Regions from separate parts of the Homo sapiens genome. Here region 1 is linked to region 2. Evidence: fine-mapped expression QTL. A gene starts in region 2. The other region holds a variant in brackets. All regions are shown on one strand. Distances are between the middles of the regions.

The links. PIP is the estimated chance that this variant, and not a neighbour inherited with it, causes the effect.
Region 1: its variant is fine-mapped to the expression of TPCN2 in fibroblasts (GTEx, PIP 0.95).

What each region holds. Positions count from the first base shown.
Region 1 is chr11:69,073,137-69,078,334 of GRCh38, forward strand. All of the region lies in intron 13 of TPCN2 (two pore segment channel 2), which reads left to right. Among named protein-coding and RNA genes, the nearest start is that of MIR3164, 7.4 kb to the right of the region's middle. The variant G/A (reference allele first, on the strand shown) is at 2,810.
Region 2 is chr11:69,046,314-69,051,485 of GRCh38, forward strand. It overlaps TPCN2 (two pore segment channel 2), which reads left to right and starts at 2,619. Exons shown (of 25, transcript NM_139075.4): 1 at 2,619-2,793. The coding sequence starts at 2,685. RefSeq lists silencers at 2,357-2,576, 2,697-2,866, 2,947-3,046 and an enhancer at 5,023-5,172.

The DNA of each region.
Region 1 (5,198 bases), 27 kb after region 2:
CTGGGAATGGAGTTCTCTTTGGCTCTTGGAGACTGGGGAGATTTTTATGAAATTCACCAGACCCCAGGAACTAGCCTGAGCCCAGCCCGACATGAAGGAGTCTTCCAAATGGTCTTCTCGGTTTCCATGACAGACTCTCCTTTTCCTGTCTGTCCTTCCTCAGGAGGTCCACACACTGGTCCTCTCCAAGGCCTTTGCCTTTCACCCTTGACACTTACAAAGTTCCCAGGTGGGCCTCAGCATCCGACTAAGCTCTGTGTCCAGAAGGCCTGGGCCAGGTGGGTGGAGACAGTGGGAAACAGCCCAGGTGCTCACAGGCAGTGTGGGGGCAGCACGGGGGCTGCCATTCCAGCTGCTCAGCCTCAGAGGACTGAGCCAGACCCTGGAACAGGGATGGGGCAGAGAGGTGGGGTGGCAGACGCCTGCCAGTTCTGTGTCACTTTTCTCGTTTGCTCAGGCTCCTGGGACGGCACCACAGACTGGGGCGGGGGCAGGGCTGAAGCAGCAGACATTTGTTATCTCACAGTCCTGGCCGTCAGTCCAAGGCCAAGTGTCACAGGGCTGGTTCCTCCTGAGGCCCCTCTCAGTGGCTTGTAGGTGCTGTTCTTTCCCCATGTCCTCACCTGAGGCCTCTCTCCGTGGCCTGTAGATGCCAGCCTCTCCCTGTGTCCTCACCTGAGGCCTCTCTCCGTGGCTTGTAGATGCCAGCCTCTCCCTGTGTCCTCACCTGAGGCCTCTCTCCATGGCTGTAGACATCGCCTTCTCCCTGTATCCTCACGTGGTCATCCCTCTGTGTGTCATCTCCTCCTCTTATAAGGACCCTATTCAGATTGGATTAGGGCCCATTCTAATGGCCTTGTTTTAACTAAATTACCTTTTAAAAGGCCCTGTCTCCAAATATAGTCACATTCTGAGCTACTGGGGGTTAGAGGTTAAAGATACGAATTTCGAGGGAGACAAAATTCAACCCATAGCAACTGTCAGCTGCTTCAGGATTCCTTGTCGGCCCCTGTGGCTGCAGGACCCTGTCAGAGGTGGTTCTCTAAAAAACATTGTTTTCCTAAGGTCCTTCCAGACCTCTGTAGTCAGGCCCTGCCCCAGCCTGAGCTTGAGTGCCACGCACTCGTCCCCATCCTCACTTCGGGCATCCTCTTTAGGGCTGCATTCCTCATTGTGGCACCCCCAGCCCCTTGGGGCATATGGGCGATGAGTGTGGTGAGGATCAGTAGGTGGCAGTTTGAATATTCACGCCATCAAACCTCTGTTTGGGACAAGGCTGGGCAATGCGTTATCAACTTAAGGTTGACTTGAAGATACGAAATAAATTTTACCAGGTGCAGATTTCACAGAAACTGTGGAGATGGTCCTCAGATAACAGAAAGTTAAGAAGCACCATTCTAGATAAAGGCGCTTGTCCTAGGGGCGGAGCTGTTTGGGGCTCAGGAAGCAGCTCTTAGCGGCTGTCGTAGGCTAGGTTTGCTGTGATCCGGCCCATGTTTAACCCAGACGGACACCTTGGCCAAGAGAGATTTCAGCATTATCTATTATGTCTAAATTGTTACAAGGAGAAGGTGTTCGTATGTTAGCTGTGTAACTGAGAGATAACTGATATGACTAAAGGGGCAGGCAGACACAGGCTGGGAGAAGCCAGTCATCCTAAAGGTTCTGGAAAGGTGGTTTTTGTTCCTCAGGCTTTGCTCCTGGTGTGTTCTGGGCCATCTGGGCTCTCCCTGGGCAGTTGTTGCCGTTCCCTAGGGCGTGGTTGAGTCCTGGTTGTCCAGAGCTGACTCTCCCACCCTTTTCCAGTGTCAGGATTTGGTGAGACCTGGAAAGGGGTTCCTCCTCCCGTGATGATGTGGAGGAAGGGCGGATGGATTGCTTTGGCCGTGACCCAGTAGAGCGGGCTTGTGTGCGCACAGGAGTGGGGAAGGCCCAACACGCAGGCCTGGCCTGATTCCCAGCCTGGTGGTCTCCCTGGAGGTCCCGGCGATGCTCTTCCCAGGGCACCGAGCACTGGGCTTTGAGATGGGAGTTTAGGTTCCACAGGTTTTGGGAGCCACAATAGCCTTAATCTGGTTTTCTGACTCCTTCTTTCCTCAATAATGCTGACTGTAGAGGGGAGGCCGTTGCCCCTCGGTATCTGCAGGGATTGGTTCTAGGACTCCATGTGGATACAAAATCCATGGATGTTTAAGTCTCTTAAGATGATGTAGTGTTTGCATGTAACCTACACACATCCTTCCGTATACTTTAAGTCATTTCTAGACTACTTGGAATACCTAGCACCTAGGAATGCAGTGGGAGTTTGGGGAATAAGGGTAAGAAAACCTGTACATGCTCCGTACAGATGCTTTTTCCCTGAGTATGTTTTGATCTGCAGTTGGTTCAGTCTGCGGACGCAGAGCCCGCTGACGTGAAGGGCTGGCAGAGCTTCAGTTTGGGAGGCAGATGCTTCTGGGATTGCTCAGATTTGGGGCAGCCTGTGGTTTTGGAAGCACAAAGAGGTCCTTTCTCGGCAGGCTGACGTCATGGGAGCTCCAGCCTTTTCGAGAGCCCTCCCGTGTGGGGTCACTGCCTGGGCGTCAGCCTGGCCGTGGCCAGGGAGTCGGTTGGTGCTTGCTGGCGAGCTTCAGAGAAGGTGCCCTGCCTGCTGCTGAAAGAAGTCTCCTCTTCATATGAGAAGCTTTTGGGGTTAAAAATGTAGTGGTCATTCATTATAGACAACAGAGGGAAGTGGGAAAATCCACCTCACGGGCTTTCTACCCAGAGACAAGCACTTTAGTCATATCAGTTATCTCTCAGTTACACA[G/A]CTAACATATGAACACCTTCTCCTTGTAACAATTTAGACGTAATAGATAATGCTGAAATCTCTCTTGGCCAAGGTGTCCGTCTGGGTTAAACAGAAAGTGTCATGTACGGCAGTGGCAACTACGATAAAAGAGTAACTGCAAGATGTAAGGAAACCATGTGGTGTCCTTGGGCTGAGGGGAGTGCATGAGGAAGGATGGACCTGGAAGGGGACCCTCCGAAGCTGGGGTTCAGACCTCTTGAGAGCAGGTGTGGTTTTGCCCACAGGAATGCAGAGACGTTCACTGGCTTCCCCGGGCTGCGGTTGGTTTGTGGTCACTGGGTAAGCAGGAGGCGACCCTCCTGGGTGCAGCAGGCCCAGGCTGTGAGCAGGCAGTGGCGTGGTCCTGCCGAGGGAATTCGGTGCCAGTGTGGGCAGGTGGCCTTTGGGCACTGGTTTCCACATTGAGGACTGTGGGAAGCTGGGAAATTTTCAGGAGGTCAGGCTGTGGCTGTAGGTCCCCTGGGGACTATGTGTCTCGGACAGAGCGTGTCCAGATGTGCTTAACACCACACTCCGATCCACCCCGTAGCATCCGGAAACCGCAGGGGAGGCCTGCCCTCCTGCTCTGTCCCTCCACCTGCCCTCCTGCTCTGTCCCTCCACCTGCCCTCCTGCCGTGTCCCTCCACCTGCCCTCCTGCGGTGTCCCTCCACCTGCCCTCCTGCCGTGTCCCTCCACCTGCCCTCCTGCCGTGTCCCTCCACCTGCCCTCCTGCCGTGTCCCTCCACCTGCCCTCCTGCTGTGTCCCTCCACCTGCCCTCCTGCTGTGTCCCTCCACCTGCCCTCCTGCCGTGTCCCTCCACCTGCCCTCCTGCCATGTCCCTCCACCTGCCCTCCTGCCCTCGTGCCATGTCCCTCCACTTGCCCTCCTGCCCTCATGCCATGTCCCTCCACTTGCCCTCCTGCCCTCCTGCCATGTCCCTCCACTTGCCCTCCTGCCATGCCCCTCCACCTGCCCTCCTGCTGTGTCCCTCCACCTGCCCTCCTGCCATGTCCCTCCACCTGCCCTCCTGCCACGTCCCTCCACCTGCCCTCCTGCCCTCCTGCCATGTCCCTCCACCTGCCCTCGTGCCATGTCCCTCCACTTGCCCTCCTGCCCTCCTGCCATGTCCCTCCACTTGCCCTCCTGCCCTCCTGCCATGTCCCTCCACCTGCCCTCCTGCCGTGTCCCTCCACCTGCCCTCCTGCCGTGTCCCTTCACCTGCCCTCCTGCCATGTCCCTCCACCTGCCCTCCTGCCATGTCCCTCCACCTGCCCTCCTGCCACGTCCCTCCACCTGCCCTCCTGCCCTCCTGCCATGTCCCTCCACTTGCCCTCCTGCCGTGTCCCTCCACCTGCCCTCCTGCTGTGTCCCTTCACCTGCCCTCCTGCCATGTCCCTCCACCTGCCCTCCTGCCCTCCTGCTGTGTCCCTCCAGCCCCTCCGCTAAGAAAGCCTCAACTCCCGTTCACTGTGGATGAGACGCTGAAAGGGACCCTGCCCGTTGTGGCAGAGTGCGTATCGAGGAGGATGTCGGGAGCCGAGAGGAAGTTCGCTGATCATTGGCACCACCAGTTTGGGTCTCACTGGAGAATAGCCACTCTATTCAACTGGATATTTTGGTGTTTTCCTTCCAGACTTTTCCCTGTGTAATTTCAGGCATTTGTAGTTACCTGGGGAAACAGTTGCTTTGTTCTTCTTTGACGTATACATGAAGCATTGCGATTTTCACTCTGCAGCCTGCCTGTTCACGCAGCCATGTCTTCTTACCCTCTCCATTTTCATATGGACTTTCTGGGGGGATGAGCTGTAGCCACGTGTCACATGTGGCTGTGGAGTACTTGACACGTGGCTGTTGCCACCGAAGAACTGAGTGTTGAATTTTGTTGCATTGAAATTTTCATGAAATAGCCGCCGGTGGTCAGTGGCTCCCGTGTGGGACAGCGGGTGCAGGTCTCCTTGCTGAGAAATGTTTAGGCCATTCCCCTTGTTGACCTCTTGCACACACAGACGTGTCTCAAGGAGGCTGCTGAGCGTGGGAAGTGCTGGGTCTCACAAGGGTCCTGACAGTGGCAGCGTCTGCCCGCCTGCCCCTCATTGCCTCCTGCTGCTGCTGGCCACAGTACAGGAGTTGGTTCTGTGCTGAGTTTCTGTAGCTATGAGTATATCACTTACCTGTGTTTTTTCACACAGCTTTTTTTTTTTTTATATATATCAGGGTGACACTTTGCGTATGTTTCAGGTGACTCTAATATCACAACATGGTTTACTTACAGCCTCAGTGGATGTTTCAGTTGCTTCTATTTCTCTTTGGGTGTTACAAAGACCACTGAGATGAACACCTTTGTGTATAAAGCGATTTCTGTGTC
Region 2 (5,172 bases):
TCCTGACCTCAGGTGATCCGCCTGCCTTGGTCTCCCAAAGTGCTGGGATTACAGGCATGAGCCACTGTACCTGGCCTGAAAGCAGAGTCTTGACGAATTATTTGTACACTCATGTTCACAGCAGCATTATTCACAATAGTCAAAAGGTGGAAGCAACCCAGTGCCCATCCATGGATGACTGGATAAGCAAAATGTCATGGATACATACAGTGGAGTATTATTCAGCTTTAAAAAGGAAGGAAATTTGGACACATGCTACATGGATGAACCTTGAGGATTTTAGGCTAAATGACATAAGCCAGTCACAAAAGAACAAATACTGCAGGATTCCACTTAAATGAGGAACCTAGAGTCGCCAAAATCTTAGGGATAGAAAGGAGAATGGTGGTTTCCAGGGGCTGAGGGAATGAGGAGTCAGTGCTTAATGGGTCCAGAATTTCAGTTTTGCAAGATAAAAAGAGTTCTGGAGTTGGAGGTGATAGTTGTATAGCATCATTAATATATTTAATATCAATGAGCTGTACACTTCAATATAGTTATGTGAACTAAAAATATCTGAGACAGGTCTCGATCTATTTAGTAAGTTTATTTTGCCAAGGTTAAGGAGTGCCTGGGAGGCAGGTCTATGCCTTCCTTCAAGGATGATTTGTAGGACTTCAATATTTAAAGGGGAAACTGGCCAGGTGCTGTGGCGGAGGTTGCTGAGTGACCTGAGATCGCACCACTGCACTCTAGCCTGGGCAACGAAGCAAGACTCTGTCTCAAAAAAAAAAAAAAAAAAAAAAAAGGGAAAGGGTGGATATTGGGAAAGAGGGAGAAATTTTAAAAATATGTGGAGAGATAAGAGACAAAGGTTGCATTCTTGTGAGTCTTTGATCAGACTTTCACTGAAATACACAATTTACAGGTTGCGGGGGTAGAGGAATAGTCACTTATGCCTTAGTCTGGCTCGGTGAATCTGCACTTTTATACCAGAGGAAGCAATCAGGTGAGCAGAGGGATGACTTAGAGTTCCATCCTTTGTTTGGAACCTGTGAAGATCAGTTGTCAATGTACATTGTTAGGGTAAAATTCAACAAAACTGTTTTAGGGTAAAGATCTTGGGTGCCCACGAAAAATTTCCTAGCGGGCAAATTGTGAGGGAGGTATGTAGCTTTTTAAATCTTCGTAGCTATTTTATTAAAGAAGAAAAGGCGAGGCAGTTTGCCCAACGCAGTTCCCAGCTTGACTTTTCCCTTTGGCTTAGTGATTTTGGAGTCCTGAGATTTATTTTCCTTTCACAGTTATGATGGTAAATTTTATATTTATTTTAAACCCTCCCCCCTCCCCAAAAGAGGGGGAAAAAGTAAAGAGGTATGGCAGAAGGGGAAGTCACAGAGATTGGAAGCGTCTTGCAGCACCTTTTTTTTTGAGATGGAGTCTCGCTCTGTTGCCAGGCTGGAGTGCAGTGGCGCAATCTCAGCTCACTGCAATTTCCGCCTCCCGGGTTCAAGCGATTCCCCTGCCTCAGCCTCCGAGTAGCTGGGACTATAGACACGTGCCACCACGTCTGGCTAACTTTTTGTATTTCAGTAGAGACGGGGCTTCACCATGTTGGCCAGGATGGTCTCGATCTCCTGACCTCGTGATCCACCTGCCTCGGTCTCCCAAAGGGCTGGGATTACAGGCGTCTTGCTGCATCTCGAAGCGTCTTCAGCGTGCTCTTGCTTGCTGGCTCTGATGATGGAGGTGTTCAAGCCATCGTGGAAGGAATGCAGTGGCCTCTAGGAGTGAGAATGACACCAGCCAACATCCAGCAAGAAGACGTGGACTTCAGTCCTAGGCCCATGGAGACAATTCTGTTAACATCCTGGATGAGCCTGGAAGTGGGCTTTCCCCAGAGTCTGCAGATAAGAGCCCACGGCAGCTGACATTTTGACTCTAGCCTCGTGAGGCCCTGAGACAGGAGGTTTCCTGCCCCGCAGGACTGAAAGATGATGAATGGGAGTTATTTTATATTTTCAGATTGTGGTAATTAGTCACTGTAGCAATAGAAAACGAATACAAGGTCTTTATGCATTAATGTTGAAAACACTTTTTATATACGTTGTAAATATTTTTTAAGTGTGTCATATGTTTTTAAACTTTTCCCTTAATGATATTGAATCCTCCTAATTTCACCATCAGAGGGTAAACTCCAGTTCCATTCTGGGGGGAGTCCTTTGCAGTCACCCCGTGTACTCAATACTCACATGCATCAGAATCACCCCGAATGCTTGTTAAAACACAGATTCCTGGGTCCTCCCCGCAGAGTTGCTGATTTAGTAGGTTTAAGGGCCCAAGAATTTGCATTTCTAAAATGTTTCCAGGTGATGCTGAAGCTTCTGGCCGGAAAGACATCCTTTGAGAACATATTTCCTCCCCAGCCCTCGGCCCTTAAGCCCCAGAACGCTGCCCCGCCCTGGGTGGAACGAAGCTGAGCTCCACCCTAGAGGGGCGGGGCCCTTTAGCTCCGCCCCACTCAGGAGAACCCCACCCCTCCCTCCCCGTTCTCATTGGCTGGGACTGCAGGGATCCCCTGCGCCACAGTGCCGTGCGCGCGTCAGCAAAAACGCCAGGGACGGGGTCTCCGCGCCTGCGCAGTGAAGCTGGGCGCCTTCGGGGCTTGAGCTTCTGAGGGTCGGGTCCAGCGCGTGGGCTGCTGGATGGCGGAACCCCAGGCGGAGTCGGAGCCCCTGCTGGGCGGGGCCCGCGGCGGTGGCGGCGACTGGCCGGCGGGGCTGACCACTTACCGCAGCATCCAAGTCGGCCCTGGTGAGCCGCCCGGACCTGGGGAGGGGACTGGCCCGGGAGACCAGGGTCGCGCGTGGGGGTCCCGCTGTCCCAGCACCCCGCTTTCTGCCGGGCGCGCCCCCACCAGGTTCGAGTCCGAGCGGGGCCCGGGCCGCGCCGGGTGCCAGGCGAGCCGGTGTTCTGAGGGCGAGTGGGCTGCGTCCTGCGGACCCGGACCGGGGTCAGGGCAGAGCTGGGGTCTCTTCCGTGTCGCGTCCTGATCCCGACCAGCTGGGCGAAGAGGCCCTCGCCCAGCCTTGGGCAGCCCCGAGGGAACCGGCCACCTGCGGCAGGCACCCTCCGTGTGCCCGGGCGGGCCCAGACCCCATACTTCCCGACTGTCGCCGTAATGAGGGTCGCCTAATTGACTCAGAGAAGGCAGCACTTTGATTTTTCCCGTTTCTTCTGGAAAAAGCAGAGGCTCACAGAGAGGCGTTACCCTACCCAAGGTCACACACCCAGTAAGTGGCCGAGGTGGGATTCGAACCAGTTGGGAGCTAGGAGTCCTTTCTTTGTAGGGTGCCTTTCCCCGTCCCACTTCCCGTGGGGCTGGGGCGGGCCCCCTAGACGGGGGCGGCTTCCTCTCCTTGCCCTCTGCCACCCCAGAGTCCCCTCTGCACTCCCTCCTGCCCTTCCCGTTTTTTGTCCTGGTCTGAAGATTGCTGAATCCGCCCCCCGAGGGTGGGGTGCGTCCGCCCCTCGCTGACACCAGGGGAATGAGATTCTGGATTAAGAGGTGGAAGGACCTTAGCTTCACTTCACAGATGAGGAAACTGAGGCCCAGAGAGGCCCTGAGACCTGCCCAAGGTCACAGCCCTCTGTTCTGGTGCGGCTGCTGCTCGAACCACTCTGAGAATTCACACCTGGCTCCTTCCCTCTCTGGCCTCTCTTTCCTTCTTTCCTCCTCTGTCTGGAAGGAACTGGGTTGGAATCCTGGTGCCCACCCACTGGTCTGTGGCATGTGCCCATCCATGGAGTAATGAGGGGCCAAGGAGGGGACCCTGACGAGAGATGAAAAACCAGAGGCCAAGGTGGCCACCCTGTCTGCTCACCTCAGAAGCTGCCTCCAGGAAGTTCTTCAGGTGCTTCCTGGGACCAGTCAGGAAGGAGATCTGCAGGGAGCAGCTCTGGCAGGCCCCTTGATGAGACGCCCAGCATATGGCACCGTTCAGGGAACACAGACTTTGTGTCTAGGGGTCTGGGCGCCTTTCTGGGGCTGCACTGGCTGTGTGACCTTGGCAGGTTGCTTAACCTTTCTGTTTCTTTTTTGAGATGGAGTATCACTCTGTCACCCAGGCTGGAGTGCAGTGGCGTGATCTCGGCTCACTGCAGCCTCTACCTCTGCTGGGTTGAAGCGATTCTCCCGCCTCAGCCTCCCAAGTAGCTGGGACTGCAGGCGCCCGCCACCACACTTGGCTAATTTTTGTATTTTTAGTAGAGATGGGGTTTCACTGTGTTGGCCAGGGTGGTCTCAAACTCCTGACCTCGGGTGATCTGCCTGCCTCGGCCTCCCAAAGTGGTGGGATTACAGGCGTGAGCCACTGTGCCTGGCCATGCTTCACCTTTCCGAATCTCAGTAAAAGGGAGATAATACTAAGGACTGCCTGGCGGGCATTGTGAGGATTCAGAGAGAATCCAGAGTTTGTCCTCAGCACAGGGCCCGGCGGGCTGGTGTGGGGGCCAGTGGCCGTCCTGGGTAAGCTCTGTGATCATTGCAGGTCCTCCCTGGCAGGTGAGACCCGCTCTGCTGGGCAGTGTGGCTGACAAGAGGAGGCTCTCGGGGAGCGCTCTTTGTCCCTATGCTGTGGCCTCAGCCAGGGCTTCTGAGAACGTGGACAGGACGCTCTGTGTTCTGAATCCCCTTGGCCAGGGTCCCCAGCAAGGACTGGCAGACTATGGAGCCATGGAGACTCCGAAAGGCTCATTCAGTCTCTGTGCTGAGGCCTGTGCCAGGCTTTGAAATGAAGGCCCTGTGCTCTGGTTTGCAAGTCCTGTGGTTGGTCTCTTGCCAACGGGTTGTGGTGAGGGCTGCTGCTGTGGGTGCCCCAAGGACCCCAGTGGACCCTGCTGTTGGGTCGTTTTGACTTGGCCCCACCTGATGGGGCCGGGGTCAAAGGTTGAGAACAGTTGTTTTCTCTTGTTGCTGGGTCAGAAAAATCACACTTTTACTGGTTATCAAACAAGTCAGAGGACAAGGGATTGCGATGCTGTAGAGGCTTTCAGAGTAACTGAATGCTTATGAAGGGCTCACTTAGCAAAGTACTCTGGCTATAGTAAGTCATTCAGTCTGTACTTAGCTCCTATTGGGTGGGGGTCCATGAGGACCTGGAGCACCTAGAGGTTAAGGGACTTGCCCAGGGT